Homo sapiens: one gene and its partners. The protein of the gene in region 2 interacts with the protein of the main gene of each other region in a pairwise test. Each region holds a gene or a part of one and is shown on either strand. Other genes may lie near its edges. The genes, in order: SCAMP4, GPR37, ZFHX2 and PUM1.

Region 1 (5,109 bases), on a different chromosome or scaffold from region 2:
GGCGTGAGCCACCGCGCCCGGCTGGGTTTGTTTTTTGAGACAGAATCTTGCTCTGTCACCCAGGTGGCAGTGCAGTGGCGTTATCTTGGCTCACAGCAACCTCTGCCTCCCAGGTTCAACTGATTCTTCTGCCTCAGCCTCCCAAGTAGCTGGGATTACAGGCACCTGCCACCACACCTGGCTAATTTTTGTATTTCTAGTAGAGACAGGGTTTCACCATGTGGGCCAGGCTGGTTTTGAACTCCTGACCTTGGGTGATCTGCCTGCCTCGGCCTCCCAAAGTGCTGGTATTACAGGTGTGAGCCACCACACCCCACAACCCCCCTTTTTTTCTCTCCAGAGTCTCACTCTGTCACCCAGGCTGGAGTGCAATGGTGCAATCTTGGCTTAGTGCAACCTCTGCCTCCCAGGTTCAAGCGATTCTCCTGCCTCAGCCTCCCGAGTAGCTGGGATTACAGGCGTGTGCCACCACGCCCAGCTAATTTTTTGTGTTTTCAGTAGAGACAGAGTTTCACTATGTTGGCCAGACTGGTCTTGAACCCCTGACCTCAGATGATCCGCCCACCTCGGCCTCCCAACGTGCTGGGATTACAGGCGTGAGCCACTGCGTCTGGCCGATGTTTGCTTTTTACGTAGGGCCAGTGACACTGGCTTTCCATCTGTGCAAGTTTCCTTTTTTTTTGAGCCGGTGGGGAGTGCAGTGGCGCGATCTGGGTTCACGGCAACCTCCGCCTCCCGGGTTCAAGCAATTCTCCTGCCTCAGCCTCCTGAGTAGCTAGAACTACAGGCACCCGCCACCGCGCCCGGCTAATTTTTGTATTTTTAGTAGAGGCCGGGTTTCACCACGTTGGCCAGGATGGCAGGGTCAGCCCTGGGCACACCTGGCTACAGGGCACCCGGGGCCTGGGTGGGAGGAGGCGCTGCAGGGGGGCATCCTGCCAGAGGCCATATGCTGAGGGGTCTCCCAAGGGAGAAGACGGCCTGGGGGAACCACACATGCTCACAGCACAAACGCGGCAGGTCCCTGGCTCTAAGTGCAGAAACATGTATTTATTTCCAGGATATTTTCACATAACAAAACCCCAACGATGCGGCGAGGGGCCACACACGGCGGGGGAGGGGTGGGGGGGGGTTGGGCCTGCCAGGTGAGATTTTGTCTGCATCAGTGCAGGCGAGAGGCTGGGGAAGGGGGTGCCTCTTGGCAGACTGGCCGGGGGCAGGACCTGAAGACCCTGAAGCATGGCCGTGAGACCCATGGGTGCTCCATCCTGGCTGCCGTCCATCGAGACACCATGGCCGCCTCCGGGCACCCAGCGGCATTCCGTACCAGCGAGGGGACTGGCTCACATCCTGGGGAGGGCTCCAGGGCAGCAGGCGTCCTACAGCAACAGCATCCTGGGGGTGAACGGGTGGGGAGGGGTGGCAGCCTGGGGTGTCCAAAGTTGTGGTCAGCGAGTGCAGGAAATGATGAAGGAAAAGTTTCTTTTTGGCCCAACCGTTGTGAATGGTGCTGTGAAAATGTCTTGCCTGGGAGAGGTGTTCCAGGGGGAGTTGGGGGGTGAGGGGACAAGACAATTGTGGCCGCTGCCGGACCCCTCCATAAGGCACAGATTTGACGGGTCCCCTCTCATAAAAGGCCACTCCAGGCTGGGCGCGGTGGCTGACACCTATTATCCCAGCACTTTGGGAGGCCAAGGCGGGTGGATCACTTGAGGTCAGGAGTTCGAGACCAGCCTGGCCAACATGGTGAAACCCCATCTGTACTAAAAATATAAAAATTAGCTGGGCGTGGTGGCAGGCAACTGTAATCCCAGCTATTTGGGAGGCTGAGGCAGGAGAACTGCTTGAACACGGGAGGCAGAGGTTGCAGTGAGCCGAGATCACACCACTGCACTCCAGCCTGGGCGACAGAGTGAAACTCTTGTCTCAAAAGAGAAAAAACAAAACAAAACAAAACACAAAGGCCTCTCCTGCAGGGCTCCGGCTGCTGGGAAACCGGCTCTCTGCCGGTTTGCTGGGTTTGGGGAGCGGCTGTGCTCCCGACCTGGCCTGGGTCCCCGACTCTGAACTCAGGGGCGTGGAAAGACAGCCTGCCAGGGATCCCTGTTTTGGAGGCAGGGAGGGTGGCCCCAGGATACCCTGGACCAGGAACTCCCCAGGTATGGTGCACGTGGGGAGGGGGCGAGGCTGGAGCCGCACAGATCAGGGGATGGCGGGGACAGCGAGGACTCAGCTAGGCACCAAGCCCTCTATCACTGCAGGGGACCGGAAGCTGGCCCCGACGCCTCTTATTAGTTCCGGCCAAGGGCATCTGCCATGGTGACGGCGGGTGGCCGGTGAGACGGAGCTCCCCATCAGACCCGCTCTGACCTCAGCGCCAGCAGCTCTGGGAGGACGGGAGGGCGGCCGACCTGCTGCCACCTGTCCCCCGGAGTCAGGCCTCGAGACCTGAAGACAAGGCCGTACCAGCCGTGCAGTGGACGGCGGGTGACCACACGTTTCCGGGAGCAAGAGGGCGTCCTGTGGACGGCAGAGGCCAAGGGCTGCTGGGGAGTGCTTGTGAGGAACTCCGCTCTCGGATGAGATGAACACGGGTTCTGTGGCCCTGGCAGGAGGGGGGCGGTCCGTGGCCACCACCGGCTTCCACCATCCCAGCTGGGGGGATGGGGCCCCAGGTACTCCCAGCCCTCGGGACCAGGGGTAGCAGCAGGAATGAAGGGGAGGAGGTGGTGGGCGGTGGGGGCAGGGCAGGCTCCCTCTAAGGCCACTGGCCACTGCCCGGGTAGCTGGGCACAGTGGGGTACTCGGGCAGGCTGTTGCCTGAGAAGTTGTTGTACTGGGCCTCCCTCGACGGTGGGTTCCGCCAAGTGCCCGTGTTCCACTCCGTCTGTGCCTTCTGGAAGCTTCCGCCAGCCCCTCGGTAGATCCTGTGCACCTGCAAGGACAGAGGACAGGGAGGCAGAAGACAGAAAATGAGCATGGCGGCCGGGCACGGGGACTCACGCCTGTCATCCCAGCACTTCGGGAGGCCGAGGCAGACAGACTGTCTGAGCTCTGGAGTTCGAGACCAGTCCAAACAACATGGTGAAACCCTGTCTCTACTACAATATAAAAAATAGGCCGGGCACGGTGGCTCACGCCTGTCATCCCAGCACTTCGGGAGGCCGAGGCGGGAGGATCACGAGGTCAGGAGATTGAGACCATCCTGGCTAACACGGTGAAAACCTGTCTCTACCAAAAATACAAAAACAAAATAATTAGCCAGGTGCGGTAGCGGGCGCCTGTAGTCCCAGCTACTCGGGAGGCTGAGGCAGGAGAATGGCATGAACCCCAGAGGCGGAGCTTGCAGTGAGCAGAGATCGCACCACTACACTCCAGCCTGGGTGACAGAGCGAGACTCTGTCTAAAAAAAAAAAAAAAAAAAAAAGCATTTTGCTGTAACTGAAAGTTTCTGTTATGAGCCCAGCTCAACACTTCCGCTATCTTCAGATGGAAACTGTGACCGGGAACCTGCAAGGGGCCCCACCCTCACTGACAGGACAGCTCCAGGGCCTCAGCTGTTCCTGCAAACACTGCGGTTTACACACAACCCCTGCTTCCCTCTGGAGTCTGGACTCCCGGCCCAGGGGGCCACAGGACTGGCCCCATAGGAACCCAGGCGCTGGGTCCCTGGGAGTGTCCCTGGTGACAGTGCCTCCTGCTGTCATCCCAGCTCACTGCTGGGGATGAAGTGCGGCCTGCGTGACACCGTGGGGAGAGGGCCCGGCTCCTCGACGTTCACCCACCTGGGACAGTTGGGTGACGAGGTTCATGGAGAAGGGGTAAGGGCTGGACGTCACAAAGCCGAGGACTCACCTTCATGATCGCGATGGCCATCATGGCAGCCGACACGGAGAACATGATGGCTGGAAGCAGCATGACCACGGCAGCGCCCGGGCTGTACTGGAAGAATCCAATTGCCGACAGCCAGCCGCTGCAAGGGACAAGAGAGTGCGTGGGTGCCTGCACACCTGCTGGATGAGGGCCCATGGTCCGGCCCATGGTCCTCCCCATGTAAAGAGCTCTGGCCAATCAACAAGGAGTGGACAGCTCATACAAGGACGACCAAGTGGCCAACAAACATAAAGCGATACTGAGAGGCACCAACTTCAACGCGTGAATACGACCTTATCCCTCCACCATCGCAGCAGTGAGCCGCGTGTGCAGTGGACACAAACTTCGACGCGTGAACACAACCTTATCCCTTCACCATCGCAGCAGTGGGCTGTGCGTGCAGGGAATGGAGACCAGTGCTTCCCCATTAGTTTCCCTCAGTGAGTCCGGCGGGCACCAGCCATGGAAAGACTCAAAGGCCCCACTGAGCCTGCTACTAAGAACCCAGCCTACGGCAACTGTGTCTAATGATGGGAACTGCTGAAACCTACATCCGCATGTCCGGGAGCAATGCGGATGGAAAATCTGCCACCATCACCCGGTGGGCACTGAGGGACCATTAGAAACAATGAGGAGGCCGGGCGCAGAGGCTTACGCCTGTCGTCCCAGCACTTTGGGAGGCCGAGGCGGGCGGATCACTTGAGGCCAGGAACTGGAGACCAGCCTGACCAACAAGGTGAAACCCCGTCTCTACTAAAAATACAAAAATTAGCCAGGCATGAGGGCGCATGCCTGTAATCCCAGCTATCTGGGAGGCTGAAGCGGGAGGCTGCAGTGAGCCGAGATCGTGCCGTTGCTCTCCAGCCTGGGGGACAGAGCAAGATTCTGTCTCAAAATAAAAAAACGAGGGAAAGCACTGCTTAGATCAGCCACCAGTGGGACACTGGGAAGGCCAGCACGCCCTGGGTCCCTCTGTGCAGGACCAGCCTCTGGGCATTGCACCTGCCTTTGAGACCCAGGAGGCAGAAAACAGTCATTTTGAGATTTTTGTCTTAACAGGTGATGAAACCACAGGGTTTAAAATTCAGGGAACTTAAAGGCAGGCACGACGTACAGTCTCTCTCCTGCTGACTCCCCTCCCTGGTGCACAGGCAGCCCGCAGGACCCACACCCCCGGATGTGTCCGGGGAGCTTATGCACACACATGCACGGGGCGTGATATGCACGCACACGCGG
Region 2 (7,994 bases):
TGTCTTGATTCCATAAATCCTCTTTTCCTTTATAGTCCTATCTTGAATTAAGGTTTGTTACCAATTATGATGTCTATAGCACAGTACATTCCTTATATGGTTAAAAAAATTCATTTAACTACAACCTAACATGTTATAATTCCTATCAATCTGTCAGGTGTTTATTAAAATAAAAATGTAAATGAAGCAAGATTAGCAACATTTTGTCTTAAGATATAAACCATCTATGTTAGATTCTAAAGATTCCATGTTTATTCTCAGTAATTACAAAATCATTTCAAAATGTAATATTTCCCCCAAGCCCACAGTCCAGTTCTCAATCTTTGGTATTATTATGATGTTCCTAGTCAATCTTAAAGTGACCTGGAATTTCAGTTCCTTACCTTGGGGTTCTGATGAGTTTCCAAAAAGCAGTAACACATTTTTACCTATTTCCCTTTCTGACTAATGATATTGATTTGCATGACTGTGAACTCAAACTAAAAACAAAATTATGTATAGTTAGGTCATCATGATTTTAATAAAATTGAGAAACCATATTTTAGGACAGAATTTATCTGCTTTTAACCAAAATTTCACTATTGGTAGTCTGTTAAGGAAATTTCTTTCTTGATTCAATCTTCTTATAAAAGGCAGTTATTTCTAAATTGCATATCTTGATGCGAATTGGCTTATCAGATGCTTTTCCGATATAAAAAGGATTTGAATTAGGAAGACAATAGTAAAGATAGGCCCTGAAGATGGGAATTGATGAGGAAGGGGCTATTTTGACAGAAAAAAAGAAAAAAGTAACATCCCTGAATAGAGTCACAGACCTAATAAGAATGTCTCATTCTAGGCAGGGATCAAATCAATGACCTTGGCCTCATTAATGAATGCTATGAACTATTCAAGTGTACAGACAGATAACACTGAAAACTATTACAAATTCACAAATGGAAAGTATTCTGTCTCAAGAACAAGACTGACACAGTGATCATATCCTGCGTTTTATGGAAGTTTATGAAAAGTACCTACACTTACTCTGCAAATAAAAAAAGACCCTCCATATTTGACGTTGCAGTAATCCCATTCTCAACTCCACTCTGAAATTTTGGATGAGATCATCTCTTCTGGCACAAAGAGTATTATTCCAATTAGGATATTTAAGAGTTAGTCTTGGCAACAAGGTTGAGTTCATTATTGGACCTTGGCAGGTCAATTCATGGGAAGTGAAATGACAGGCGCATCCCTGGAGGATGGAGCAGAAGTGCAGAGGCAGAGACAAACTGCACTGCATAGCTGCCTTCCCATCCCTCTCCCACAATCTACATCCCAGACACAGGTCCATGTGCTTCCAATGGGATACTGTTAAAAGGTTGCCGCACATAAGACGAATGCCATTAAAGGTGTAAAAATTGTATCAAGGTCCATGCAGCCTAAATATGAAAGCAAAGGTAGACCCTCACCCACTCAGCCTTCGGTAAACTTATAAGCTCATATCTGTTTTACTTCTGCAGACACATTTGCCTCCTTGTCTCTGTGGAAGGATACTTTGCTGACATGGCAGGATACCTTGGGAGCCCTCAGGAGCTCAGAATAAATCTTCACTCTGATTATGTGCTTGAGAGATTAATCCAATTCTTGAGAAAGTCCATTCATCGTGCTCCCCTTTCCTCGACTCCACAATGGAGTCTAAAGTATCGCCCTTGTCCATCTTCTTTCTTAGGTTCTCCAAGGTCAAGTTAAACAATTTGTATATGTTTTGATTTTTTCAGAAGAAAAGGACTCAATTTAATATACTGTTATTACATTGCCAAATAAGCCATTCATTTAAATAAAATGTTTAATTTTGACGTATTTAGTGTCCTTATAGCTAATAAGGACTAATTGTAAAGCAGAGATAGATATCCTAGGCACTGGCACAAATTCCATATTTTAAAAGAAATTTCTAGAACTGAACTATTTGCTGAATTATTTTGCCAATTATTATTATGGACTTTCTATCCTGGGAAAGCTAAAGGAAACAAAAAAGCAAGAATTAAAAGATTTTCACATTTGTAACTTTTCATCATGGATCTAGGCTGTATAGGCATTTATGAAATTTATGAAGATTAATAGTAAGAATGTAACTGAAAAGAATTAGAGGGAGCACAGTTTTCCCTTTAATTTCTCCATCTCTGGTCATAACAAGCACAACTGTGACTTGACCCATTTCAGTGCCATTTCTGAGCTTCCACGATGCTTTGTTCAAACCTCTATTATAATATTCATCATGGTGTAGAACATTACTTTACTTTTCTGTAATTTTAATGGCAGTGGCTCATCTATGATATTCATCTTTGGAAACTTTTCCCCCTCTTCCTGTATTGCCTTCTCCTGCCCACTCCTAATAGTACCTCGCATAGAAGAAAAGCCAGGTAAACATTTGATAAATCAATGAATGGTGAACAAATGAACGAATGATGACACCTATGGAAAAGGATTACAGAAAATAATAAATTATTCAAATTGTTCTTTAATCAGTTATTGGGTGCTGCTGTTTTATATATAATCCTTAAAAGCTGAATGCCAGACAATATCTATAGAAGGGAAGTTAAAAAATCAATTTTCCTATTTATACTTCATTGACAAGCTTTAGAAAAGGACACATTCTCATTATGATCAATGGAAAAGGAAACTATTTGGATTTCTTATTTGAATATTATAAAACTTTTCTTTCTTGTGGAAGATCCAAATTCAGTTAACTTCACCATACACCATTCAGAAATGGAGTTATAAATAAAAGTGCACTCTAAGAAACACTTTTCTTCCTGTTAGAGTCATCAGCTAAATATTTTCATTTGCATGGGAATATATAAAATGATTACTAAAAGATTAATGGGAAGTCATAAAATATTTGTTCAGCACCATTCTCATATATTGAGCACATTTTCCCTAAGAATACTATTAGTAACTTTAAAATTGCTCATAAAACAGTAAGTTTCCACTTAAAAGTCCGGCAGAATACCTAATGACTAATCCACCTCTCAAAGAAAATTTACCATATGCCATGATAAATGTTCTATTACTTGAATACAGGCGTTCTAGGGAAATCTGTGTAGACTCAGATAGTTGTATGGCACTGTCATCTTCAACCTCCAAAAACCCTTTCTTTCTTGTCAGTGCTAGCTACAATCTAAGGCAATGAAAGAGCCATTTGTTCCACTCAACTTAAAACCAGTATTGCTAAAGTCATTGGAGAAGCTGGTTCCTCTCATTAGAAAAGATTCTAGACTTGTCACAAATTATTCCCAGACCAGAGGCCATGGTAAGACATGTTCCCTTTATTCTCTCTCCACCTCTGTGCAGGAGTTTTATCCCAGTAAAATAAAAATACAGTTAGATCTGGGGTTATCTCATTATAATTATTTGAAGCCTTCTGTTCTACAACACTCCATGAAGGTGTGGGTTCTTTAAACTAAAGAGAATCTCGATCATTCAAAACCTCCAATTAATGTCCAAACAGACCTTAATCTGTTATCTGGGATCTCGGTCAGATGATACCTTGATTCTGACTTCCATTAAATAATGAGCAAAGATTCATTCCAGTTGCCATATTTGATGTCTGAATTATTTGAATTTTTTTTTTTTTTTTTTGAGACAGGGTCCCACTCTGTCACCTAGGCTGGAATGCAGTGGCATGATCATGGATCACTGCAGCTTCAACCTCCAAGGCTCCAGAAATCCTCCTACCCCAGCCTCCTGAATGGTTGGGACTACAGGCATGCACCACCACATCCCGTTAATTTTTGTATTTTTTGTAAAGATGGAGTTTCGCCCTGTTGGCCAGGCTGATCTTGAACTCCTGGGCTTAAGCAATCTGCCTGCATAGGCCTCCCAAAGTGCTGAGATTACAGGGGTGTGCCACCACACCTGGCCCAAATTATTTGGTTTTAAACACTTGTTAGATTCCTAAGTGAATGGTAGGTATGGTAGAGAACTCCTCTGCCATTCTCCTATTGCAATCCACACCCACACATATCTCCACCTCCCCTAATACACATAAAAGCACACTACATATACAAGTTTTGTTTTGAGTATAGTTTTTTTCTTGTGGCTAAGTAATAAACCACTTTAAACTGATGTGTCTAGGAGGACGGCCATGATCTATCCAAATTTTCTTCTCTCCTATCTGGCATTTCCTACCATTTCATTTGTCCTTCGACTTTATGAGATTTATTATTAGGCCATAAAGATGTCATAATCCTGGAATAGAAAGGGAAAAGTCATCAACTACAACAGTTCCCAGAACATTCTCACTCACGGCAATATTAAACATCATAAAACTTCCTTTCTCACAATAGACCTTGGAAGCTGGGTGCTATCCTCAAGCTTTAGGCCAACAAATTAAAATAGAAAGAGGAGTTGAATGAAAATTAGAAAAAGTATAGTTTTTACTCAAGAAGTACCTCATATTTTTCTACACAAACCCAAATCTTCCCCAAAATCCCACGATTCCCTTCAGATTATGCTAACGCTCAAGCTGTACAGGAGAAAGAACTGTGGTAGAAAAGAAAAATAAAGCAAAAGAGAAGCTGGGAGAGAAAAATTATAAAATTCAATCATAATCTATTGAGAATAAAATTTAAAATTAACTACGAAAAAATTAAAAATAAAAACACTGAAAAAGGTTAAACATCTTACTGGAAAATGGTGAATGCTACATCATAAATCTATAAGAAGGTATTATACATAGTTAAAGAAAGGAAAAATAGCCAAGAAATAAAATAAGAAAGTAACAAGTGAAGGAATGGCAAAATTTAGAAATATGAAAGTAGACAAGATGTCAAAAAATTTTTAAAAGTCTTGAGGTCAGAGGCAAAATTTTGGAAGGGGATTTGGAGAAAGTTTGAACAAATGTAATGTACTTGTAATGTCCTTCACCAATCTAACATACTTCATGATTTTAAGAACATAAAATTTAACCTATATAACTTTTTGGTCATTAAAGTCATCATGCTAGGCAAATTAAAAAGTATAGTTGTCTCAGATTACTGCAATTTAAAAAATTTTAATTAACTACCAATTGCAGAACTTACTGACAGTTTATGAGAAACAAAAGAAGCTATACATTTCATTATATAACAAATGATGTTTACGGGTTTTTATTTTTTCCTGTCTAGTGGATTAAAAAAAGAAAAAATTTTTCAGATGCCAAGGAGCGGAAAGGAAAAGAAAACACTCACTGGATAAAGCTTGTGCTTCATACAGGTTGGTCTAATCAGCAAATATAAACATGAAGCATTGAGACCAAGGGTCTGGTGGCTACTGACCAGGTATATATGTTTAGGATAGTCTCTGAGCTTCAAATTTCATCTTTAAAATGAGGGAGTTGGATTAGAACATTATCTATGTCTGATTTAACATGATTGTTCAAAAGCTACTGTAAGCTGGGCGTGGTGGCTCACGCCTGTAATCCCAGAACTTTGGGACGCAGAGGTGGGCAGATCACAAGGTCAGGAGATCAAGACCATCCTGGCCAACATGGTGAAAGCCCATCTCTACTAAAAATACAAAAAAAATTAGCCGGGTGTGGTGACACGCACCCGTAGTCCCAGTTACTTGGGAGGCTGAGGCAGAATAGCTTGAACCCCTGAAGCAGAGGTTGCAGTGAGCTGAGATCGTGCCACTGCACTCCAGCCTGGTGACAGAGCAAGACTCCGTCTCAAAAAAAAAAAAAAAAAAAAAGCTACTGTAGTGGATGCTGTGGTTTTCCACCCAGACAGCTCCCTCCAAAGTCCTTCAAGAATGAAGCACTGATTCCTCCAGCTGCTGGGGCTATTGGTTGACAGTGCTTAGCTGCATCCCTCTCTAGGAATTGCCCTTGACCAAAGAGATCCACCCAACTCAAGGTTATACCCCATCCTGGGAGCAGGCTTGCATCCAATGTCTTACATCTAATGACTGGTCCATAAAGAGATGTAAAGGCTGAGCCCTCTTGCCTCAATTTGGGATATGGCTGCATGGCCATCCCAGCCCTAAAGCTCCTAATGGTGTCAGCTGAGGTCTCTGTGGCAATTGCATCACAGTTCAACTTCTCCCTTTGCCCGCCCAATCCTGCTTTCTTCTTTCCTTAATAGGTTGAACCTGAGAGCACAACCCAATAAACTTGATGCCCCAATAAATCTACATCTCAGGGCCTGTTTTTGCAGGAACCCAACGTAGGAGAAACCCTAAATACCTCTTACTTTTGTGAAAACATCAGTGCCTCCTGGAGACACACTTTTATTTTGAGATTTGGACTGTAGTTCTTGTTCTCAGTAATCAGGAATTATGAAGCCAGCAATATTGTCCAATAATTATTTTTATAAACCATTCTAAAATTATTTCAGAGTAATAAGGATTAGGTAGAAATATAGAAATGCTACATATTAAGATGTTCATTCACTATTTTAACAGTAAAAATGTATATTATACTGTAATTTTAAAAAATAAATGAGTGAATTTTTTAAGCCTTTGATTCTCTAAGAAAAATAAATGCTAGCACTAATAACTGAAAAATAGAGAAAGCTACTAGGATGGGGAAAAGTTAAGCAAAAATACAGAAAGTAAAAGATTTTACTAATAATAAGAGGCAAAAAACAAAGCACTCTTAAGGAGGAGCTGATTAAATTAAAAAGTGAAATACAAATGAAAGAAAGTATTACATTTGTACAAACTCAGAATTACGGAAAAAGAAAATTAAAATAAGTACATAATAAATGCCATTGCTCAAAATGCTTATATCTCATTAAATTAACCAAAGTTTTTATAATCTTTCCTGAATTTGATATTCTTTTCTTTTAAGGTGTTCTTTCAAGAACTTTGGTGTTTTTATTTTTCTTTCCCCAATTTCCTTTTTCTGTCCTATTGTTTTTCCCTCTAGTGTATACAGATTTCTACATGTCCAGTACATTTCCAGTGAGATAAGCCAATACACTTCTCTGTCATTGAGGTACCTCTCTTGTCCGCTTTATACTTTTGTCTCTTTCTTGCATAAGTCAATTTCTTCTGATAAAAAAAAAAAAAGAAAAAAAGAAATTTGAAACTGACCTTGAAGAGGCAGTTTGGTAAATAGACACATATTCTCTAACATGAGTTCAACTGGCTCCTTCACAATTCAAAAATGAATTGTCTACCAAACAAAGTAGATGTTTCAGAGATACGCCAAGCTTGGCAACAGGAGAAATCATGGACGCTGCTAAAGCAGCAACAGCTGATTTCATAGTCATGGAATGATCCTGCACCTGATCCCTGTCAAGATAACAGAGGGTCTTATTTACTGTCTCCAGCTTTGGTCCGTCTAAGTAGGTACTGTTTTCTGTTTACTTATCCCCCAGCTTTAGGCCTGGAACAATGTTGAACATAGTGTCACAGGCCCTGGTGCCAGACAGGATCAGGGGCTGCGGAATATTTACAGTTTCCCTTCTTCTGCTTCCATAAATGAAATGGACAGTCTGAATGGAGAAAATCAAGGGCCAGCTGGCTAAAAACACAACTGGCAGCAAAACAGTTGGGCCCCTTCCAAGAGCTGGTGTTTAAAGAGAGGCCATTTAAAGAGCAAAGTCCACCTACCACAATAGTGGGCCAGGACACTAGCTGTAGGATGAAACAATGCAATTTCACTCAAAATGATTTTTGTTTCCAAAGTTTGGAAACTAGATGTGCCCCCTTCTTCCCAAGAAATTTTCTAGTCTTAGGGTCAATCCCTTAAAATAGCCAATCTTTCCACCCATAACAAATAACAAATGTATAACTTTGAGAATGTTAAACAAATTATGTGCCACGCTGGCCAAAGTCTTATTTTTGCTTAAGTTCACGCAAACACACAAAAATAAAATTAAGAAACCGAGATGGGAAAAGACAGGAACAAAAAATGACTTAAGAATTTAGATGGGATAGCATGGAAGACAGTCAGACACTTAAACTAATTTGAGAGGTTATTAATATATCATGAGGCCAACTGACAAACACAATTTTCTTTCTTTCTTTCT
Region 3 (7,994 bases), on a different chromosome or scaffold from region 2:
GCCGAGATCCCTTGCCACAGATCCAGCCTCCTGTCTGAACAAACCTCCCACCTAATTGCTGCTTTTGCTACAGATGAGAGAGCCTGGGCTGCTACCTCTCCTATCTGGCTTCCTCTTTCCCCAAACCAGAAGTCATCATTCTTTGAGGCTACCTGGTCTGGCAGGCTGGTACCTGCTGTTCAACAACTCTTCTCAGGACTTAGTGGAGGTGAAACAGAAGCCTCTGCCTCATCTCTTAAGTAGAGGCAGCTAGACAAGCTCAGTTCTGAGTCTCCCTCTCTAAAATCCAACTTCAAATCCATGAAATGCTGCTTTTGTTGCCAACACATGCACTTGCCTGAATACTCCTGCCTCTTCCTCCCCTCCTGGATGGCCCTAACAAGGCCTTGTCGGACCGTCCTCACCCAGCCAACACACGCACTTGCCTGAATGCCCCCTGCCCCCAACACATGCACCTGCCTGAATACCCCTGCCTCTTCCTCCCCTCCTGCACAGCCCTAATAAGGTCTTGTTGTACCGTCCTCACCCAGCCTGTACTCACTACAAGCAGCAGCTTCTCAACGCACTCGGGCACCACGTTGTGAAGGTGGCTAAGGTGGAAGTGCAGGGCAGGCCGGCCCACCAGCTGTTCCTGGCACAGTGGGCATCTGTACTTGGGCTGCACTGCATGCTGGGAGAGTGTATGAGCCCTCACCTGGCTGGACTCTGGGCTCAGGAAGCTGCAGTATGGACAGCAGTATACCTGGAGGGAACATATGGGCAGTGGACGAAGTGTCAGGGAAGGATGGGACCCACCATCACATAGTCCTTTGGATGCAGCACTGGCCCGCCCCCACTCCTTTTTTTTTTTTTTTTTTTTTTTTAGATGGAGTCTGGCTCTGTCACCCAGGCCGGAGTGCAGTGACGTGATCTCGGCTCACTGCAACCTCCGCCTTCCAGGTTCAAGCAATTCTCCTGCCCTCAGCCTCCCAAGCAGCTGGGATTACAGGCGTGTGCAACCACGCCCAGCTAATTTTTGTATTTTTTAGTGGAGACAGGGTTTTGCCACATTGGCCAGGTTGGTCTTGAACTCCTGATGCCAGGTGATCTACTCATCTTGGCTTCCCAAAGTGCTGGGATTACAGGCGTGAGCCACCACGCTTGGCCTCTCACTCCTAATTGAAGAGGAACTAGCCAGATAGGAAGGCATTATAGCAGACCCAGCCTCCAGCCACAGTCCTGAGAGCTGGCTCCTCCCCACTTTCCCTTGGATTGGGACAAAGGCCTAGCTTAGGCCGCTACCTTGCACTCCTTCTTTGTCTGGCCCTCTTCCACCATCCTGGCCTCTCTGCCTTTTCTTGGTGTGTCTTTCCCAGTCTTTGCTGCCTGCCTCAACTCTCCAGCTAACAGATGGCTCTGTACCTACTGCCCCCACCTTGGATTTAGTTTTCTTCTCTTACCTATCCTATCCTGTCGTGTCTTCTCTGTGAAATGGTTCCATTTCCTCTGGGCATTTTCTGGACCCAGAGGCTCCCTTGTCCCTGCCCACTCTGCCTCTGTGAACCATCACCTGGAAAGGGGCCCTACCTGTCTGCTCAGAAGCCAGCTCATCCTCCCTCAGGCTCAGCAGCTCCCACCTTATTTTCCATCTTTCTTTTTCCTTCTTCTTTTTCCTAATGTGAATAAACACCACAGCTCCCCCAGTGGCCCAGGAAAATTCTGGCCCAGCCCTCTCAGCACATTCTCAGCCACACTTCCAGAGGGGTGAGGCTGCCAGAGGCCCCACCATCACCTGACTGCCAGACCTACCCAGCCTGCATCCAGGCTGGCACCAGTGGCACAGGCCTGTGTGTCAGGGAGGGGATGACTGTAAAGGAAGGGGATCCAGATGCTCATCTTAACGCACCTAGCCCCTGGAGCAGACATCTGGAAGAGGTCTGTTGGCGGGAGCAGGAGTTAGGAAGAAAAGATGCTGAGGACATAAGGCATTACTTCAGCTTGCAGTAATGCAGTAACACTGCGTATTGCAATAACAATAAATGTTACATATTGTAGTCCAGTTTGGAGAGCTGTGAGGCACAGGATGGCATCTCAAACCAGAGGCTGGGAATCCCCTCAGAACACAGAGCTGCCATTCCTGGGTGCTGCCTAGGTCTGAGTCCTGGGGATTTAGAGATTTGTGGCACATGCTGTCAGTGTGAATCATTTGGTTGGTGCCCCTACCCTTAGTAAGAGGATGCCAGGACAGTTCCATCCAGGCTCAGGGCGTTTTGTAGGGTAGGAACACCGGTGTCTTGTCTTTCTGCTCCTAACTAAGGGATAAAGAGCTGGGCAGTAGCTGGTTGTTTGCTTTTGCCTTTCTCCTCCCCTCCTTCCAGCATGTACCCCCACTCTTTCCTACTCTCAGCACAATTCCTTTATTCATCTTTCCCTCAAGTTCCTGCTGTCTCCCTCCTATCATCTCCCTCTGTGCTTGACCCTGCTGGGCCAGCTCTGCCCCCGAAAGTGCTGAACATGTGGAACTGGATCTGGGTGGAATTTCTTAACTGTGCTATTCTGAGTGAAATAAGTCAAAGCATGACAAAATTACGTCTGCCTTTAGAATATGAGCAGATCTCAGTAAAGCCAGGCCCCCACTTCAGCTCTTCCCAGTTACCCCAATTCTGACCGTGGTCTGGTTGGCACTGTCTCTGGAAGGGCCAGTCTTGTTTTCTGTCTCTTCTGAAGCTGAGGATGAAAGAAGAGGAGATTAAGGAACCCTGACAGCCCTCAAGATGATTTGTAGCAGAGAGCTTCCAGGGTAGGGAGTTGGGCACTAGAGAAAGGGCAGGAAACTCAGTAGATAGGTGAGGCTTGGCAAGGGCTGACTCCGGGTCAGTAGGATGGTCAGGTCTGAGTTCTCAAAGAGGGCGGAAGTGCCTAGCCTCTCGTGGCTCAGCCTCCCTTCCCCCTGATGAGCCCTTTCTTTAATCAGTTTTGCTCCTTGAGCACAGACATTGCTGGGCTCCTGGATTACTGCAAGGTCCCGTGAGCGTCTCAGAAGGTAGGAGGACTGGGGGGAAGGGAGGGAAAACTCACCCAATTGTTCTGTCTTGTTCTGGGCATCTTTCTCAGGGGTGGGTGGCTCAGCTAAGGGGGTGACAGGAGCCTTCCCTGTGTAGGATGGGGGGAGAGTCAGCTTAAAGAGGTGTGGCATCAGGGAAGGGAGGACATAGGACAGAGGAAGCAGGACAAGCAGCCAGTCAATGAAGGAGAAAATGGATGGCTCAATCAGCAGGTAGGAGAGTATGAAAAGCCAACAAAAAGAAACACCCACACAGAAGATAGAGGGAAAATTACAGTATTAGAACTGGTAGGGCCTAAGAGATCATTTTATTAAGAGTCCAGTTCCTGTCCTTTTATAGAAGTCCAGCAGTAGACAGCAGAAACAAGACCAAACTCAGCTCCCTGTCTTAAATGACCCAGGAAATGGGAAGCCCCAGAGAAATGTAGTAGGAGGGGCACTGAAGAAGGAAGCCTTGGCTGAATGGAAGCAGCTGCTGCAGTGAGCAGGAAGTGGCAGGTCTAGCTGGAAGAGGAGATTACCGCTCAAGTAAGAATTGACAGATGTGTAGGAATTTATTTTCGGTGGCAGCCTAATTAAAGTGTTAAAGTTCCTTAACTCCATTCAGCCCTGCGCCAGGATCGTTAGCTATTGATCTGGGCCCCTCCGGCACTTAACTCCAGCCAGCATATTGGCAATTCAATTAGCACCAGTCAATGCTGCGTGTTCCTGGCTCCTGCTGCCCATGCCCTCGCCCTTGCCCACCACTGGCTCTGCAAAGCCCGACGCCCATGCCCACCTCTGGCAGCCCCTTGCAGGCTCTTCTCCTGTACCCTCTGGATCAATGGTGCCTGGCTGGCTGTTCCCGGCCTCTGCTGGTACAACCTCAGCTGCCTAAGGGTGACTCTAAGCCCAGCCTTAGGGCTGAAGACCTCCTAGGAGACAGGAAGAGGCTGGGAAGCTTGTCAGGGGCCTCTTCCCATCCCTGCTGCCTTTGGATCATGCCCACAGCTCCTATCTCCTTCCAAGAAGCCCTGGCCCAGCACAAAACAGGTTCTCTCTCCTTCCTACCCAGCTCCAGCCTGCCACCCTCCAGCATTACCAGGACACTAGTCACTACTCAGAATCACTGGGTGGTTCCTCTTCACCCTCTTCCTGTTCTATGTCATCCACCCAGCAAAGCCCCTGCCCTTCTTTGCCCCTCCACTCAAGGTAGCCTCCACAGTGCCTGACACGCTCATTCTGTCTTATCCCTTCGCAGCTTCTTCCCATTTAGTATAGGTGGCCTACAGGCCCTCTTCGCCTTCCTTGTATCTCTAACTCCGCAGCCCCCCTGCTCCCCACATCCTGCTGCCCTCCCTGCCCAGCTCTTATTCTCCAGTCCCTTCTTCCTCACCGGGAGTCCGGAGCTGCCCGTGGCTGAAGCTCAGGATGCTCTGAAGAGCTGCGAGTCCTTCCTCAGTGGTTGGGCCATTCTGTAGCAGCTGCAGACGCCTCTGGGCCTGGGCATCGCGGTGGGCAGGTGTGCGCAGGTGTTGCAGCACAGCCAAGCGGGAGGGTGTCTCCCACGCACACAACAGGCAGTGGTATAGCCCCAGCTCTGCCCCTGCCTCCGCTCCCTCCATGTCCAGCAGAAACTAGAACCATGGGAAGAGGCTGGCTCAGGCCCAGAAGGGACATGCCAGACCTCAGGGGACTTTTTTTTTTTTTCTAGAGAGAGTCTTGCCCTGTTGCCCAGGCTGGAGTGCAGTGGCATGATCTCTACTCACTGAAGCCTCTACCTCCTGGGTTCAGTGATTCTCATGCCTCAGCCTCCCGAGTAGCTGGGATTACAGGCATGCGCACCACACCTGGCTAATTTTTGTATTTTTAGTACAGATGGGGTTTCACCATGTTGGCCAGGCTGGTCTCGAACTCCTGACTTCAAGTGATCCTCCCGCCTCGGCCTCCCAAAGTGCCGGGACTACAGGCGTGAGCCACCGCACCTAGCCTCAGGGGACTTCTTTGCCTTCCCTAAGGGAGACTGACTAGCAGCAGCCCCCTCCCCACCCCTCGCTTCCTGCTCCTGAAACCCCCCCTTTCCCTCCTATGGCCACCTAAGTATTATTGCTTGCTCTCCCCAACCCTTTCTCTTTCTCCTACCACTCCTGGACTCCCTCCCAGCATGCAAATGGAGTCTGGTTCCATCCTCTTGAACCTCTGGTGACATGACAAACTGAGCTGATACCACCCCTCCCTCCAGGGCCAAACACCAGAAGAGCTGAATAAAGTCTGTTTCACTTGTCAGAGTTTACTATCCTTTGGTCTCTTTCTCCATGTCTGTCACTTTGTTACCCTGGTACATATGTCATTACCTGGTGCATACTTTCCTTTTTCTCCATTTGTCACCCAGGGTTTTCCTATCACTTTCTTATTCTGCATCTCCTCCCTCTGTCCCCATTCCCTTCTCCTCTTCCGATGGCCCTTCCTGACCCAGCCTCACCTTATAGATTTGGCTGTTTTCTTCGTGGGCTGCACCCCTGGCATGCAGCTGCATCTTCTCCTTGCTGTTGGACTCAAAGTCACAGATGTTGCAGCGCAGGTGTAGTGGGGAGACAGACCCATAAGGAGCCCCATCTCCCAGGGATGCTGGGGAAGGGGTGCCCATGGCTCCACCCCCCTCCCGCAGGTGGGCTGCCAGCTGGTACTTCTGAGCATGTTTGTCAGTCTTGAGGTGGAGTTGGAAGTTGGCCTTGAGCTGGGTGCCATAGCAGCAAAGCTTGCAGCGGTGGGTGTCACCAGCCACCTCCTTCCATTCAGCTTCCGGGAGGCTCCGGCCTATGCTGCAGTGGTAGAGCAGCAGCTCCAGGCTGTCTGTGCTGAAGGCCTGGCACACTAGGCAGCGGAACACCTTCAGGGACAGGCTGTCGTCTGGGGGTGGTGAGGTGGGCAGGCTGTCAGATGAGGAACCCAGGAGCTGACTTGGAGGCAGGTGGGCATCAGGGGATAGGCTTCCAGGGGCTAGAGGACAGAGACAGATTAGTGGCCCAAGAAAGAAATGGGGCACGGTTGGTTCTCTATGTGGGGAGGTGGGTTAATGAGTAGGATAGTGCTCAGAGGGACTTATGGTTACCTAAGTGGGGAGTTGGTCCTTGGGAGAAAGCACGGAATAGAGTTTGGCCCTGGGGAGGAGAGAAGAGGGAAGAAGCACAGAAGCTTACCGGATGTGGGGAACTTGCGGGCAGGTGCTCCTACGTGGTGGAAACCATTGAGAAGTAGCTGGGCTTCCAGGGGCTTGTCTGGCCTCAGCCCCGGGCCAGCCAAGGGAGTCTGAGGCTGCCCTAGGGCCTGGGGCCCAAAGTACTGGAAGAGTTCAGGGGGGCTAGTGGGGGTAGCCCCTGGTGGGGGAGGAGGGCCTGGCCCCATCAATCCAGGTGGCAGGCCCAGCGGCAGCCCCTGGTGCAGCATTAGGACATTCTGCATGTGCTTCTCAGAGGTCATATGGATGCGCAGGTTACGGGAGATGTTTGTCTCGTAGCTGCACACCTTGCACTGCCAGGATGATTTGGTCTTAGGCTCTTTGTCTCCCGCGGAGGGTGGGAGTGATGCCTCTGGTGGACTTCCCTGCCCACCAGGGCCCGCCTGGAAGCCCTGTAGGTTGGCCAGGTGCTTGTCAGACTGCATATGGATGCTGAGGTTGCCTTTGGTGGTTGTAGAGTAGTTGCAGACGTCACAGCGGTAGGGTTTGTAGCCACAGTTGTAGCTCTCTCCACGAGCAAGGCGGGGGTGGGCGCCCCCAGCACTGCAGTAGCTGCAGTGACTGTTGCTCTCAGGGTGCTTCTCTCGCATGTGCACATCCAGGGTCTGCTGGTACTTGTAGTGCCAGTTGCACTTGGGACACTTGAGTGTCTTGCAGGAGTTGCGTGAGTGGAGCAGGGACATGTGGCTGGACAGGCTGAGGCCCTGGAAGGCTGCAGGGGCTGGGGTGTAGTCATCAGCTAGGCGATAGGGCTGGGGTGGGTCACTGGGGTCTTCGGGGGAGCCCACTGGGGCAGGGAGAGTGCCCCCCTCCTTGGAGGTGGGTGAGCTTTGGTTGAGTGGGGGGCAGAGCCCTCCATCCTCTTCTTGCCCCTCAGGGAACCAATCTGGCCCTGCCTCGCCTGCTGCTACTGGCGATTCTTTGGCTTGGGTTGGGCTGGGGTCCCAGGTGGCTGTGGGTGGAGAGGGTGGGCTGAGGGCCATAACTTCTTCATCCAGGAGGATAAGGGCCTGGACTTCTGCCTCAGGGGGGCCATCCTCTGTCTGGGCCACATTCGCCTCCATGTTCACTGTGCTGCTGTTGTCAAGGGGTATGTCAGAAGAGGGGCGAGCAGGGAGTTTTGGCTCCAGAAAGCTTATGAGGGCCTTGCAGCCTTCATCTCCCTCCTGGAGTACAGCTGGGCTACCTGACAGGCCCTGATATTGGGCAGGGGTTAGCTTCACCCCATGAGACTGTGTGTGATCCATAAAGGCCTGGGGCTTGCTGAAACCCAGGCGGCACAGAAGGCAGAGCCAGAAGACCGCCACGTGGTTGCCCCCGCTGTTCCCCATGGGGCCATCTTTGGGATCTCCGGGTGGATTTGGAGCCAGCTGGTAGCTCCAGAAAGCTCCATGCCTTTCCTCACAGGCAGCCGGAGATGGTGCTGAGGTATCATGGGACAGAATTTGGTCAGAAGAGCTAAAGCCTTGGATTGGGTCAAAGCCATGTTGGATGTGAAGGGCAGTGAGGTGTGAGGGGGGTGGGTAGGCAAGGAAGGGCAGACTGGGCTCTTCCTTGATGCCCGCCTCACCCCAGGGGAAGCCCTTTGGTAACAGGAGTTCACTGCCACCTGGCAGGGACAGCTTGGCCACTAGGTAGGCCTCACCTCCAGCTGTGAAGAATAAGTGGTTGCTTAGGTCCATGGGAGGGAGCCCTTCTTCTTCCTCCTCCTGCTCCTTGTCCTTTTCCACCCCT
Region 4 (7,994 bases), on a different chromosome or scaffold from region 2:
GAGTCTTAAGCACGATGACTTTAAATTTACCAAAAACTTTTATATTTATCTCATTTTCATTAAGAAAAACCCAAAACATTGAGAGTCATAGAGGAAGGATTTCTTTCATTTTCTAGATGAGGAAACAGGTAGTTTTGTTTAGTGAAAGAACTTGGGTTTTGGAACTCTTGGCCTGCTCTAGAACAAAGATTGTTAGGTCGAGATTTCCTTTTAGAACAGAATGGGACTGTCTAGTATTAGTACTAAGAGAGTAATGAATTCTTTAAAAAACCAAGCAGGGAGGCATTAGGCTGGTTTGCACTTTTGAAAGACCGATGGTGAAACCGGGCTATGACTTTTTGGTTTTGGTACTTGAGCAGGGACTAGTGTCTAGGTTAGACTACTCCAGTACCCTGCTAAGGTTCTGATGGATTGGAATTCTTAACCTAGACTAGGCATTTCCAAATTAGGCTTTAAACAAATTACAAATTCCATTGTGTCTTCTTAGGCTGGCTTCAAAAACATGAATTTAGTTGTGAGAAGCAAATGCTACTTTATCAGAAGGTTTATTTATTCAACAGAGAGATAGTAGATTTGTTATTCATGTGTTTTTGAAGCATCACAGTGGGGGTTGGGAGAAGAGATAAAGCATTTGTAGCAGTAGACTGTTAGGCCGATGGCTTTGAAATTAGACCGTGGCTGTGGACAGGTGTGTCCTAATTGGTAACTGATTTATTTACTTTGTAGCTTTTTTTTTTTTTTTTTGAGATGGAGTCTCACTCTGTCGTCCAGGCTGGAGTGCAGTGCCTTGATCTCGGCTCACTGCAACCTCCGCCTCCTGGGTTCAAGCGATTCTTCTGCCTCAGTCTCCCGAGTAGCTGGGACTACAGGTGCGTGCCACCACACCTGGCTACTTTTTATATTTTTAGTAGAGACGGGGTTTCAGTATATTGGCCAGGCTGGTCTGGAATTCTGACCTGGAGATGCGCCTGCCTCCGCCTCCCAAAGTGCTGGGATTACAGGCGTAAGCCACCGTGTCCGGACACTTTGTAGCATTTTTTAAAAGCACCCACAGGCTGGCAAGTGTTCTATCTTAAGTACAGATGCAGTTTTTGGTTTTAAGGAACTTTAGTGTTTCATAGTAACATTTGAGGGATTCTTTGTTGGTCTTCCAGAGGAGTAGAGGATACAAATGAGACATATTGTTGAGTTACTCCTGCAAGGGGTTAGTAGAAAGAAGTAAGCTTGGGAACGATTAGGGTTTGAATCCTTTCTCTGCTACTTGCTAGTTGAATGGCCTTGGAAACATCCCATTTTCCTCCTGTACCTTAGTGTTTTCATTTGTAAAATAGAAATAATAATGGCTACCTTTCAATGCTTTTGTGATGAGACAATGTCTGCGATATATTCATTACACTATTACCGTGTTGAAGCTTCTGTTTGTTTGTTTGTTTTTGAGACAGGAACTCACTCTGTCGCCCAAGCGGGTGTGCAGCCTCCCGCTCCTGGGCTCAAATGATCCTCCCACCTCAGCCTCCCTAGTAGCTGGGACTATAGGCACATGCCACCATGCCTGGCTAATTATTTTTAGTAGAGATAGGTCTTGCTATGTTGCCCAGGCTGGTCTTGAACTCCTGGGCTCAAGCTGTCTGCCCACCTCAGCCTCCCAAAGTGCTGGGATTGTAGGTATGAGCCACCACACCCAACTGAGGCTTCTGGTTTGTATAGTGAGGCTTTCTTTTTTTTTTATAATTTAAAAAAATTATTTTATTTATTTATTTATTTTGAGACAGAGTCTCGCTCTGTCGCCCGGCTGGAGCACAGTGGTGCGACCTCTGCCTCCCTGGTTCAAGTGATTCTCCTGCCTCAGCCTCCCAAGTAGCTGGGATTACAGGCGCGTGCCACCAAGCCTGGCTAATTTCTGTGTTTTCAGTAGAGTCGGGGTTTCACCATGTTAGCCAGGATGGTCTTGATCTCCTGACCTCATGATCCACCCGCCTCGGCCTCCCAAAGTGCTGGGATTACAGGCATGAGCCACCGTGCCCAACCTCCATTGGCCTTCTTAGAGCCTTATTTTTTAATAAAATAATAGAGATGGGGGTCTCACTGTGTTGCCTAGGCTGGTCTTCAGCTCCTGGCTCAAGCGATTCTCCCTGCCTAAGTCTCCGAAGGTGCTGGGATGACAGGAGTGAGCCACTGTGCCCAGCCTGTAGTGAGGCTTTCTACACTAATATGAAGTGTTTAAATTTGGTTTGGTCTCATCCTGTTTATAGTAGTTGAAGTACTAATGGCATAATGTGATTACAGTTAATAGTTGTAAGTTACTGGTAAAAATATTAATGCTTTTAAAAATCAGTGACAACTGAGGAGAGGGCTTAGGCTAAAAGCATTCTGCTGCTGTTCTTGGTCAGAGGGTTTTATTGTTTCTTTAAGAAATATCCTATCAATATATTGGAGGTTTTATTTATTTATTTATTTATTATTTTTTTTTTTTTTACTGAAACAGAGTCTCGATTTGTCGCCCAGGCTGGAGTGCAGTGGTGCGATCTTGGCTCACTGCAACCTCTGCCTCCCGGGTTCAAACGATTCTCCTGCCTCAGCTTCCCAAGTAGTTGGGATTAAAAGTGTGTACCACCACACCCAGTTAATTTTTGTATTTCCAGTAGAGATGGGGTTTCATAATGTTGGCCAGGCTGGTCTCGAACTCCTGACCTCAAGTGATACACCTGCCTTGGCCTCCGAAGTGTTGGGATTATAGGCGTGAGCCACCTCGCCTGGCCAATATGTTGGACACTTTAAGGGATCCTTTCAAATTACACAATCTGAGCCATTGCTACTTATATATGGGTTTAGGCTTTTGTTTAGTTATTAGCATATGTCTGCTCCAGCTGTAAAGTTGTGATTGATTGATTGATTGATTTTTTGAGAGAGAGTCTCGCTCTGTCACCCAGGTTGGAGTACAGTGGCATGATCTCGGCTCACTGCAACCTTTGCCTTCTGGATTCAAGCCATTCTCCTGCCTCAGCCTCCCGAGTAGCTGGGATTACAGGTGCCCAGCACCATACCTGGCTAATTTTTATATTTTTAGTAGAGATGGGGTTTCACCATGTTGGCCAGGCTGGTCTTGAACTCCTGACGTCAGGTGATCCACCCACTTTGGCCTCCCAAAGTGCTGGGATTACAGGCATGAGCCACCACACCCGGCCGAAGTTGTGATAGTTTTAAAAAGGCTTTTGGGGCTGGGCGCGGTGGCTCACGCCTGTAATCCCAGCACTTCCGGAGGCCGAGGTGGGTAGATCACCTGAGGTCGGGAGTTCGAGACCAGCCTGGCCAACATGGTGAAACCCCGTCTTTACTAAAAATACAAAAAATTAGCCACCCGTGGTGGTGGGCGCCTGTAGTACCAGCTACTCAGGAGGCTGAGGCAGGAGAGTCGCTTGAGTCTAGGAGGCGGAGGCTGTAGTGAGCCGAGATCGCGTCATTGCACCCTAGCCTGGGCAACAGGGGCAAAACTCTTGTCTCAAAAAAAAAAAAGCTTTTGTTCATTTAAAAACTGTCAGTTGGTTTGAGGTATAAGTAAGTTGGGTAGACTGATAGAAGTCTAATTCTGTATTGCTATGTGTTGGTTAACAACATAAACTTCTCTGAAGTGGTAGTATTGAGTTCTGATCCCAATACCTTGCCAGAGTGCATGCCACCAACGACATTTATTTATTGTAAAAGACATGGGGTTCATGTTTTTATCTTAGTGTGTTTTATGTTTCAAAAGATGGAAATATTAAATATTTGTAACCTGTTTGTCCTTAGGTGTTGGTGGAATGAGCGTTGCATGTGTCTTGAAGAGAAAAGCAGTGCTTTGGCAGGACTCTTTCAGCCCCCACCTGAAACATCACCCTCAAGAACCAGCTAATCCCAACATGCCTGTTGTTTTGACATCTGGAACAGGGTCGCAAGCGCAGCCACAACCAGCTGCAAATCAGGCTCTTGCAGCTGGGACTCACTCCAGCCCTGTCCCAGGATCTATAGGAGTTGCAGGCCGTTCCCAGGACGACGCTATGGTGGACTACTTCTTTCAGAGGCAGCATGGTGAGCAGCTTGGGGGAGGAGGAAGTGGAGGAGGCGGCTATAATAATAGCAAACATCGATGGCCTACTGGGGATAACATTCATGCAGAACATCAGGTAAAAAAAAGTTCACTATTTTAGCTTTGACATTCCTTTATAATCACTGTCCACTTAGGATATCTGCTTTCAATGAATGTCTTTAAAAACTTAAATTGCTGATTTCATTTGGTACAAACAGTTACTTGTTATAAAGGTTGATCATTGTAATACTGTTACTGGGTCATTTATCATTCTGGTGCTAAATAGTAAATAGCCAATTCATTCATTCATTCATTCATTTGAGACAGAGTCTTGCTCTGTCACCCAGGCTGGAGTGTAGTCGCCTGATCTCGGCTTGATCTCGGCTCACTGCAGCTGCTGCCTCCCAGGTTCAAGCAGTTCTCCTGCCTCAGCCTCCTGAGTAGCTGGGACTACAGGTGTGCACCACCACGCCTGGCTGATTATGTATTTTCAGTAGAAACAGGGTTTCACCATGTTGTCCAGGCTGGCCTCGAACTCCTGACCTCAAGTGATCTGCCCGCTTCGGCCTCCCAAAGTGCTGGGATTACAGTTGTGAGCCACCCACGCCCGGCCTATAGAATGCATTTTTTTTTTTTTTTAAGACGGAGTCTCACTCTTTTGCCCAGGCTGGAGTGCACTGGCGCGATCTCTGCTCACTGCAAGCTCCGCCTCCCAGGTTCATGCCATTCTCCTGCCTCAGCCTCCCGAGTAGCTGGGACTACAGGTGCCCGCACCATGCCTGGCTAATTTTTTGTATTTTTTTTGGTAGAGACGGGGTTTCACTGTGTTAGCCAGGATGGTCTCTATCTCCTGACCTCGTGATCCACCCATCTCGGCCTCCCAAAGTGCTGGGATTACAGGCGTGAGCCACTGCGCCCGGCCTACAACGCATTTTTAAGAACACTTTTTTTGGAACAAAGGATTCTTTTTTTTACTGTTGACATAAGAACTGCTAGGGTTGTTTATAGGATAGATACATATTTTTGAATCTTTTCTCTTGGGTGTGGGTGACTTGATTTTAAGATGTTGTAGTTGAAAGTAGGGGGAAGTTGATAACATCAGCTGCTCAAGTGAAATTTATTTGAAATGGGACTGATATATTGTGTCAGAGAGAAGTGGTTGTGGCTTTTAGGTTTTAACCACCTTTGTCCTCTTGTTATTGTTTAATTTTTAATTTTAACATGTTCAGTCTTATTAATCTAAAACCATAGTGGGAATCATAGCATATTTTACTGAGAAGAGAGGTTAGCCTTATCCATGTTTCCTGATTTCTTGATAATGACCAACCAAAAGATTAGACTGTTTTGATCAGGGTATTCTTTGAAATTGGGTATAGGTTGAATTTGGAAAGGTTCATTTTGTGTCACCCGTCAGTACTGATTAGCGAGAACTGACATTTTTCATTAGGCTTCTAGTGCTTCTGTTTTACTTCAGAAAAAATCAGGTACAAACATACCTGCAAGTCTGATTTTATTATACTTCCTCTGATCCCCCCAAAAGTGAACCATAGTTGTTTTTTTTTTTTTTTTTTTTTTTGAGATGGAGTCTCGCTCTGTCGCCCAGGCTGGAGTGCAGTGGCACAATCTCGGCTCACTGCAACCTCCCCCTCCCAGGTTTAAGCAATTCTCCTGCCTTACCTTCCCGAGTAGCTGGGATTACAGGCACCCACCTCCATACCTGGCTAATTTTTGTATTTTTAGCAGAGAGAGGGTTTCACCATGTTGGCCGGGCTGGTCTTGAACTCCTGACCTCATGTGATCCACCTGCCTCAGCCTCCCAAAGTGCTGGGATTACGGGTGTGAGCCACCATGCCCAGCCCTTTTTTTTTTTTCTTTTTCTTTTTTTTTTTTTTTTTGAGACAAGGTCTGGCTCTGTCATCCAGGCTGGAGTGTGGTGATATGATGATATTGGCTCACTGCAACCACGGTCTCCCTGGTTCAAGCGATCCTCCCACCTCAGTCTCCTGAGTAGCTGGGACTACAGGTTTGCAACACTACACCCGGCTACTTTTGTATTTTTTGTAGAGACGGGGTTTTGCCATGTTGGCCAGGCTCTACTTTGAGCCCAGGCTCACAGTGATCCACCTGCCTTGGACTCCCAGAGTGCTGGGATTGCAAGTGTGAGCTACTGCATCTGACCAGTTCTTTACTATAGTCGAAACAAAGACAGGCTGGGTGCAGTGGCTCATGCCTGTAATCCCAGCACTTTGGGAGGCCGAGGTGGGTGGATCACCTGAGGTAAGGAGTTTGAGACCAGCCTGACCAACATGGTGAAACCCTGTCTCTACTAAAAATGCAGAAATTAGCCAGGCGTGGTGGCGCATGCTTGTAATCCCAGCTACTTGGAAGGCTGAGGCAGGAGAGTCACTTGAACCTGGGACAGGGAGTTTGCAGTGAGCTGAGATCTTGCCATTGCACTCCAGCCTAGGCAATGGGTGAAACTCCATCTCAAAAAATAAAGTAAAAAATTAGCTGGGCGTGGGGGCACATGCCTGTGTTTCCAGCTGCTTGGGAGCCTGAGGTGGAAGGATTGCTTGAGCGTGGGTGGCAGAAGTTGCAGTGAACAGAGATCATGCCACTGCACTTCAGCCTGGGCAACAGAGTGGGACCCTGTCTCAAAAAAAAAAAAAAAAAAAAAAAAAAAAAAAAAAAGAAAAGAAAAGGAAGGTTTTCAGCTGTAAGGCTGAAAGAAGGCTCACCCCTGCAATCTCAACACTTTGGGAGGTCAAGGCAGGTGGATCACCTGAGGTCAGGAGTTCAAGACCAGCCTGGCCAACATGGTGAAACCCCGTCTCTACTAATAATACAAAAAAATTAGCCTGGCATGGTGGTGCACACCTGTAATCCCAGCTCCTCGGGAGGCTGAGGCAGGAGAATCGCTTGAACCCGGGAGGTGGAGGTTGCAGTGAGCAGAGATCACACCATTGCACTCCAGCCTGAGTGACAAGAGCGAAACTCTGTCTCCAAAAAAAGAAAAAAGAAAGATTTTCTCTTTCTTTGGGATGAAGATATGCACAGAATTTGGTGATTGAATTAGAAATCTTATATCCTGGAAAGATGAAGTAATGGAGGAAAAGTACAGAGTGCCTCTGGTTTGGGACACAGTGATTACATTTGATAGGACACCTGTTGAGTTTGAGGTAGAAGCAGAATATCTGGGTGTATACTGTAGGCAGCTCTACCTGTAGCAGGAAATCAAGGTAGGAGGTATTTGATTTGGGTGGCATCTGTGTAGTGGGGCAAAAACAAACCCTGTAATCTCTGTACTATTTGGCTAAATGTTATTCAAAAATCATAAACATTGGTTTTTTAAAATCTGTAATAAAGATCTATAAGATCTTTTGTTGTGTTTCCTAATGATAGACTGATGGGTGGAAGCTGAAAGGAGAGTCAAGGTGCCTGGCAGGTTCTTTGCTAGGTGAGCAAATCAAACTCTAGGTCAGTCCTTGGCAGAGCTCTAAGATCTGATTATTGCTGTGCAAGTTAAGAAGCGTTTATTGAAGGCTTACTCAGGCCTCTGTCTTACACTGAGCCCTATCATAAGGAATCACATCTGACTTACTGAGCAGTTTTATCCAGGTCAGTTAGCAAACTTGAGTTAATAATAGTAAATGGCAAAACCTGTTTCCCACTCAGGTGGCCTAAACCAGTGACCTTGGAATTGGCATTCATCATTACAACACAATTCTTTGGGCTGGACGCATGAAATAATGAACAACGTTGGGGAACTCAGGGTAGTTGGTATATTGCAGTTGTGGACCACCCACAGGTTACTTTTCTGTAGTCATTATAGTGTATTGTACTGGTTTTAGTGTTGTTCTCACCTTCTGGACTGAACTATTCTAGATCAGAGACTTGTGTTTTTCATGCCCCTTTTCCAGGAGGTATTATG

The links.
Region 1: the proteins of GPR37 (region 2) and SCAMP4 interact in binary tests that used the Homo sapiens proteins (3 or more experiments, as listed by UniProt).
Region 3: the proteins of GPR37 (region 2) and ZFHX2 interact in binary tests that used the Homo sapiens proteins (3 or more experiments, as listed by UniProt).
Region 4: the proteins of GPR37 (region 2) and PUM1 interact in binary tests that used the Homo sapiens proteins (3 or more experiments, as listed by UniProt).

The regions. Positions count from the first base shown.
Region 1 is NC_000019.10:1,921,934-1,927,042, reverse strand, and holds the end of SCAMP4 (secretory carrier-associated membrane protein 4), read right to left. Parts: intron 3,974-5,109; coding exon 3,856-3,973; intron 2,936-3,855; coding exon 2,759-2,935; 3' UTR 1,030-2,758; downstream 1-1,029. UniProt on the Homo sapiens protein: Probably involved in membrane protein trafficking.
Region 2 is NC_000007.14:124,755,467-124,763,460, forward strand, and holds part of GPR37 (prosaposin receptor GPR37 precursor), read right to left. Parts: intron 1-7,994.
Region 3 is NC_000014.9:23,527,063-23,535,056, forward strand, and holds part of ZFHX2 (zinc finger homeobox protein 2), read right to left. Parts: coding exon 6,223-7,994; intron 6,023-6,222; coding exon 5,505-6,022; intron 5,311-5,504; exon of another isoform or gene 4,660-5,310; coding exon 4,419-4,659; exon of another isoform or gene 3,384-4,418; intron 3,133-3,383; coding exon 3,058-3,132; intron 3,023-3,057; exon of another isoform or gene 2,707-3,022; coding exon 2,648-2,706; coding exon of another isoform or gene 2,636-2,647; intron 2,603-2,635; exon of another isoform or gene 2,203-2,602; intron 1,653-2,202; exon of another isoform or gene 1,591-1,652; coding exon of another isoform or gene 1,567-1,590; intron 743-1,566; coding exon 542-742; intron 1-541. UniProt on the Homo sapiens protein: Transcriptional regulator that is critical for the regulation of pain perception and processing of noxious stimuli.
Region 4 is NC_000001.11:31,055,370-31,063,363, reverse strand, and holds part of PUM1 (pumilio homolog 1), read left to right. Parts: intron 1-3,786; 5' UTR 3,787-3,797; coding exon 3,798-4,160; intron 4,161-7,994. UniProt on the Homo sapiens protein: Sequence-specific RNA-binding protein that acts as a post-transcriptional repressor by binding the 3'-UTR of mRNA targets.